Homo sapiens: one gene and its partner. The protein of the gene in region 1 purifies or fractionates together with the protein of each later gene. This does not show direct contact. Each region holds a gene or a part of one and is shown on either strand. Other genes may lie near its edges.

The links.
Region 2: the proteins of ZFYVE16 (region 1) and STAM2 purify together in Homo sapiens (affinity purification with western blotting, with the first as the bait; one study listed by BioGRID). This does not show direct contact.

The regions. Positions count from the first base shown.
Region 1 is NC_000005.10:80,414,309-80,418,133, forward strand, and holds part of ZFYVE16 (zinc finger FYVE domain-containing protein 16), read left to right. Parts: intron 1-3,825.
Region 2 is NC_000002.12:152,120,118-152,123,942, forward strand, and holds part of STAM2 (signal transducing adapter molecule 2), read right to left. Parts: intron 3,819-3,825; coding exon 3,649-3,818; intron 686-3,648; coding exon 457-685; 3' UTR 1-456.

The DNA of each region.
Region 1 (3,825 bases):
AGGCCTGTTGCACAACTCTCTTCCTGGACTGCCCTTTTACAGTCATCTGTGAATTGCATTTGTCTCTTCTGTGTGGGTAGCCTCTTTTTCTTGGATTTCAGGTTTTCCTTTTTCTTGGTGTCTCCCTTATATTGGCAGAGTATGTTTTTGAGTAGCTTCCTGAGAGAGACAGAATGGGATGCACATATTTTGGGTTCTTGCATGGTCAACCATTTTTTTATTTAACCCTCACATTTATGATAACCAATCCTTTGATTGTGACCTGTTATATCTCTTTGGAAGCGTTTATATTTATTCAGCAAGTATGTATTGAGCACATTTTATGTGCCGGGCACTGGTCAAGACATTTTGAATATATAGGTGAACAAAAATACAAGATTCATGTCCTTATAGAGCTTAAATTCAGGGAGGGAGGAGTTGTTCAACAGCAAATATAATAAATAAATTATACAAAACATTGGGAGTTTGTAAAGTAAATAACTGCTTTAGAAAAGAGAAAAAAGAGCAGGCTGGGGTGGGAAGTTCAGGAATGTTGGGGAAAGGAGAGGTAGGGGATGCAGACTGTAGTATTAAATGGGGTGATCCTCCCTTCAACCATTCAGGTGTTCTGAAATTTCACAATGATGTTGGTTGGTAAGAGTTTTTCATTCATGTGTTGGGCCCCAAATGGGCCCTTTCCATTTGGAGACCATATCCGTGGTTTATTTGACAGTTTCTTCTTTCCCTCCCTTCCTTCTTTCTGGACTTCTTTTATTAGAATATTAAACCTCATTAGATTGATTCTCTAATTTCTAATATTTTCTCTCCTGTTTTCTATCCCTTTCTGTTCTGTTTTCTAGGATATTTTCTCAACTTTATTTTATAACACCTTGATTGCATTTTTAAAAATAAACATTTTATTTTGGAACAGTTTTAGATTTACAGAATTATTGCAGACAGTATAGAGTTCCTATATACTCCACACCCAGTTTATTATTAACATCTTAGATTAATATGGTACATTTGTTATAATTAGTGAACTAGTATTGATACTTTATTAACTAAAGGCTATACTTTATTCGCATTTCCTCATTTTTCCTCTAATATGCTTTTTCTGTTCCAGGATCCCATCCAGGATACCACATTACATTGAGTAGTCCTGTCTCCTTAGGCACCTCTTGATTGTGATAGTTCTCAGACATTCCTTGTTTTTGATGCTCTTGAAAGTTTTGAGGGTTACTGCTCAGGTGTTTTGTAGAATGTCAGTTGAGATTTGTCTCATGTTTTTCTCGTTATTATATTGGGGTAATGTGTTTCGGAGAGAAAGACAACAGAGATAAAGTACAATTTTCATCAATACATACTGTCAGTGTGACTTGCCACTTTTCTTTTTTTTTTGAGATGGAGTCTCCCTCTATCACCCAGGCTGGAGTGCAGTGGTGCGATCTCAGCTCACTGCAACCTCTGCCTACCGGGTTCAAGCGATTCTCCTGCCTCAGCCTCTTGAGTAGCTGGGATTACAGGCACGTGCCACCACACCCGGCTAATTTTTGTATTTTTAGTAGAGACGGGGTTTCGCCATGTTGATTAGGCTGGTCTCCAACTCTTGACCTTGTGATCTGCCCGCCTCAGCCTCCCAAAGTGCTGGGATTACAGGCGAGAGCCACCACGCCCGGCCAACTTGCCACTTTTAATGTTAACCTTGATCACTTGACTTGAGGTAGTGTTTGTTAGGTTTCTTCACTTTGAAGTTAGTATTTTCTTTTTTTCTCCCTTTCTGTATTCTTTACTAGAAAGTCACTGTGCGCTGCACACTTAAGGAATGGGGAGTTCTACTTCCTTGAGAGCAAAGAGTCTAAATAAATTATTTGGATTTTTTTTTTATTTTTTTGCGTGGGAGATTTGTCTTTTCCCCAATTATTTATTCAATCATTTACTTACGTCAGTATGAATACATAGATTTTTTTTTTTTTTTTTTTTTTTTTTGAGACAAAGTCTCGCTCTGTTGCCCAGGCTGGAGTGCAGTGGCGTGATCTCGGCTCACTGCAACCTCCGCCTCCTGGGTTCAAGCGATTCTCCTGCCTCAGCCTCACAAGTAGCTGGGATTATAGGCACGCAGCACCATGCCCGGCTAATTTTTGTGTTTTTAGTAGAGATGGGGTTTCACCATGTTGGCCAGGATGGTCTCGATCTCTTGACCTCAGGTGATTGCCTGCCTCGGCCTCCCAAAGTGCTGGGATTACAGGCGAGAGACACTGCGCCCAGCCGATTTTTTTTTTTTTTTTAATGTGTTGGGTTATACTTCAGTACTGCTCTTTTATTTTGTCCCAGCTTTGGCCTTTGGGAGTTCTTTCACTTGGGTCTTGTATCTCTTTGACATACTCCCATTGTTGTATGTGTGTACATCAACTTTTACTTTCTGGCATTACAAGATGCTCTGTGCTCATTTTGTTTATTTCCTGCCCTAGTTTTAGAAACAGCCATTTTTCCAAGGAGACTTGGTTCCTTTTGTTGGAGAATTTTATTAGAAACCAAGATCTGGGTGCTAAGTATGTTCGTTGCCCCTGGGATGTTACTGCTTCTAGGCCCTCTAAGCTGACAAACACAAGGAGATATGTTAGTATATGTGTTTATACTAACCTGTATTACACATATATCTGTAAATATTTCTATGTGTGACCATCGGTATCCATATTAAGCTGAACATGAATTTATATTGATGTCTTCAGTTCAAATCCATTACCATATAGATTATTTTATCTTCCTCCCCTGCCATAACCTCCTCCTTCAACAGGGAGAAACTTGGCTTCCACGATCAGTCGTCCATTTACTTACTTGTTCAATTTCAGTATACAGATATAGTGATTTCAGAATTGTTAACCTGTACCACCATGGAAAACAACTTTATCAACTAGGGTAGAGTGCCTGTCTTTTCTTTCTTTAGTCTTACATATTCCACTCATTTCCAAAGGTCAGCACCTTATTCCTACGTCCCCTGTGATGAGGTTGTTTCATACATTTGGAATATAGTTAGACTTTTTGTCGCAGTCTGCATGCCAATCTAGGATCCCCCATTCTCCTAAATAATTTTTTGAAAATTTGCATGTTGAGGTTTATTCTTTATGCTTTGAAGTTATATGGTTATTAACGTGATTATCTTATATTCACCATTACTACCCTAAAAAGTCTGTGCTTCACATATCCAACTCTCCCCCACTTTAAACCACTGGCTATCATTGGTGTTTTACTGTCTCTGTAGTTTTACCTTTTCTAGAATGTTACATAATTAGAATCATGTAGTATGTAAATTCTTTCACTTGGCAGTATACAGTAAGATTCACTCGTGTTTTTGTGGCTTGATAGCTTCTTTCTTTATATCACTGAATAATATTCCATTGGATAGATGTGTGATGGTTTGTTTATCCAAATACCTAATGAAGTACATCTTGATTGCTTCCAGTTTTTGGCAGTTATGAATAAACCTGTTTATATGCATTCACATCCAAGTTATTGTGTGAATGTAAATTTTCAAATCAGATGAGTAAATACCTAGTAGCACATGATTGCTGGATTATATGGTAGTAGTAAGTTTTGTAAGAGACCGCCAAATAGTCTTCCAAAGCAGCTATACCATTTTGCATTCTCACTGGCAATAATAAGATTTTCTCTTGTTTGGCATTGTCACAGTGACATTCTAGTAGATGTGAAGTGGATATCTCATTGTTCTAATCTGCAGTTCCCTAAAGACAAATGATGTTCAGCATTTTTCATATTCTTATTTTCCATCCTTATATCTTCTTTGGTAAGATGTCCATTCAGTACTTTTGCCAATTTTAAAATTGGATT
Region 2 (3,825 bases), on another chromosome or scaffold:
GGAAACAGTGGTTTCTTTAAAATAATATTTTAATCCTCCTATCTCATACTGTTTATAAGTATGAGATACTTTTGACAAACTCACTCTGTCGATCATGCTACTGCACTCCAGCCTGGGTGACAGAGCGAGTTTGTCATAAGTATCTCATACTGTTTGTCATAAGGCTACTTAATGAGTATCTAGATTTATGTAGAGAAATCTGAAAGTAAGACAAAACTAACTGAAAGCATCTTTAAGCTGCCTCTGATGAAAAGATTGACTTCAAACAAACTGGACTGAAAAAAAAAAAAAAAAAAAACCTTTTATGGCCTTGTAGAATAAGAGAGGTTTTTGTGCTTTATTTATTCATGGTCCTTTTGAGTTGAGAGGGAAAAAAGTTTTAATATTTTCAGGTTGGTATCACAAGGACTGAATAATACACTTATGAAGGCTTTCAAGAAAATGCTTGATTTGTTTCTAAAGGAGAGGCTGCTGATGGTAATTTGTGTGCTGCTGTGCAACTGGATGAGCTGGAACTGTCACCGGAAAGCCTGCCAGTTGAGGCAAATTGGAAGTAGTGTTCTGATAAGATGACATATCCACAGACATCCCCATTTGCTGTGTGTAAGCAGTTGTACCAGTAGCTGACTGTAGGTTAGAGTTCTGGTTCATATAAGTAGGATTGGAAACAGTGTCTTGTCCAGTGCTACAAACAAAATTTTAAAAAGAAAACCATATTTACTTTGCAATATATAAGGTTAGAGATCAATCATCATGACAAAAATGCCTTTTCCATCTTCTTTTTAAGCTTACGTAGCTCTGCTGTTCTGATTACAATTTAATCATTCCAGCCATTGAATACTGTTAATCAAATTTTCTTCTTCTTATTTTTGAGATGGGATCTTGCTCTGTTGCCCAGGCTGGGGTGCAGATCATAGCTCACTGCATTCTCAAACTCCTGGGCTCAAGCAATCCTCCTGCCTTAAGCCTCCTGAGTAGCTGGGACTATTTAAAAAAAATTTAAATTAGTCCCAACTAATTAAAAAAAAATTTTTGTTGTAGAGACTGGGTCTTGCTATGTTGCCCAGGATGGTCTCAAACTACTGGGCTCAAGTGATCCTCTGGCCTTGGCCTCTCAAAGCGTTGGGATTACAGGCATGAGCCACCATGCCGAGCTTGTTAATGTAATTTTTATATTTGGTAAGAAGAGAGAGGTACTTGAAAACAAACAAAATGTAAGATTCTAAGGCCAATTTAACTTCCCTTCTCCAGAATCTCTAACTAAAAACATTCAGAAACCACCTGAGGAGATGCAAACTGTTCCTGACAGAAGTACCCTTGGCCATTTGCAATGAGAATGGAGCCCTGGCTCAAGATGCCACTTTCAGCCCATATTCTCCCTTCCCCATCTCCCAATCCAGCACAAAGAAGTCCACCTCTTCTCTGTAAACATCCTTCAAGCTTTCCTTCAGTAAGGACTTTCTACTTTTAAAAGGAAAACAGCATAGTCTGTATAGGGCCCAAAATCAACCCTCAGGATAGTCCGAAACTATAGTTTCTTTATTGACACTTCACAAACTAAGCTGAAAAATCACACCAAATTGCAAGACTTGTTTGTTCCTATAACTACTGTGGCATACATTTCTCTTAAAATATATATACTTTTGGCTGGAAGCGGTGGCTCACACCTGTAATCCTAGCACTTTGGGAGGCCGAGGAGGGCGGATCACGAGGTCAGGAGATCGAGACCATCCTGGCTAACACAGTGAAACTCCGTCTCTACTACAAATACAAAAACAAAATTAGCTGGGTGTGGTGGCACGCGCCTGTAGTCCCAGCTACTCAGGAGGCTGAGGCAAGAGAATGGCATGAACCCGGGAGGTGGGGCTTGCAGTGACCCAAGATCATGCTGCTGCACTCCAGCCTGGGTGACAGAGTGAGACTCCGTCCCCAAAAAAAAAATATATATATATATATATATGTGTGTGTGTGTGTGTGTGTGTGTGTGTATACACATATATATACATACTATGCCCAGCGGTTTTAGGGCTGAGCTTGGAGGCTTATGGCTTTAATCCCAGCATTTTGGGAGGCCAAGGTGAGAGGATTGCTTGAGGTCAGCCTGCTTTGAGACCAGCCCAGGCAACATGGCAATACCCATCTCTACAAAAAATTAATAACATTAGCTGGGTGTAGTATGCGCCTGTGGTCTCAGCTACTCAGGAGTCAGAGGTTGGAAGATCCCTTAAGCCCGGGAGTTGGAGGCTGCAGTGAACTATGATCACACTACTGTACTTCAGCCTGGGTGATAAAACCCCATCTATAAAAAAAGTTTCAATAAAAAAAATTATGTAATTTTAAATTCCACCAAATATACTGCTTGCAATAAAAGAGAATTAGTTTCAAAACTACACCAGTTTTTTCTCCACAGTTCCTAGTGTTACCAAACATAGCAAAATTTTATATTTTATTCTAACTGAACACTAATATAAACAGATTTATTTAATATTCATATAATATCTAAAATTCATACTCATGGAGTTTGAGGGTGAGAAGAGACCTTATAGATCATCTACATATGATTATATTGAATGAACATTTTGTATGGTTAAGCAAAATGAATAGAAAGAAAGATTTAAATACAACTCTTAGAGTAAAAGTGTTTTTATTTAAAAAAAGAACTATAGGGCTGGGTGCAGTGGTGCATGCCTGTAATCCTAGCACTTTGAGCAGCCACAGCAGGCAGATCCCTTGAGCTCAGGAGTTTGAGACCAGCCTGGGCAACATGGCGAAACCCCACCTTGACAAAAAAATACAAAAATTAGCAGAACATGGTGGTGCTTGCCTGTAGTCCCAGCTACTGGAGAGGCTGATGAGGGTGGGTGGATAGCTTGAGACCGGGAGGTCAAGACTGTAGTGAGCTGAGATCATGCCACTGCACTCTATCCTGGGCGACTGAGTGAGACCTTGTCTTAAAAAAAAAAAAACTTGGCCAGGCGTGGTGGCTCACACCTATAATCCCAGCACTTTGGGAGGCTGAGGCGGGTGGAACATCACGAGGTCAGGAGTTCGAGACCAGCCTGACCAATATGCTGAAACCCCGTCTCTACTAAAAATACAAAAAAATTAGCTGGGCATGGTGGCGCGTGCCTGTAATCCCAGCTACTCAGGGGGCTGAGGCAGGAGAATCGCTTGAACCTGGAAGACGGAGGTTGCAGTAAGCAGAGATCTAGCCACTGCACTCCAGCCTGGGTGACAGAGGGAGACTCTGTCTCAAAAAAACAAAACAAAAAAACCTGAACTACAAATTCCACAGTTCAAACGCCCTTCTTAAGGGTCAAAGTAACAACAGTTTTCTAATTTTTAGGAGTGCATGCAGATAAATAAGTCTGGGACTACTTCACAGGCTGATTATAGCACAGTGCTAAGCACATCATGGGCTTAGTCTCATAAAGGACAATTAGCTTTTGCCCCAAGGATGCAGACTGTAAGCTTAAGGGCGGGCAATAATCTCAGTATGGGTAGCAAAGCTAAGGTAACACCATTCCACTTCACAGGATTATGAATAAACAGTTCTGTAACTTCATCTTAATAAGGGTCTATATATTCTCATTCTGAAAATCTAGGAAAATTAACACATATAAAATTAACACAGCTCCCAAAACTTACCTTAAATATGAAGTTTGAGCAGGCTGTGCTGTCACTGAGGAATTCACATTTGGAGGCAGAGATCTCAGTGGACCAATTTGATCGGGTCCTAGGCTATAGCTTTGGGCAACAGTTACTTGGTGAATGCTCTGACCCATATAGTTTCCACCATGTGATTGAACTGGATATGTCTATTAA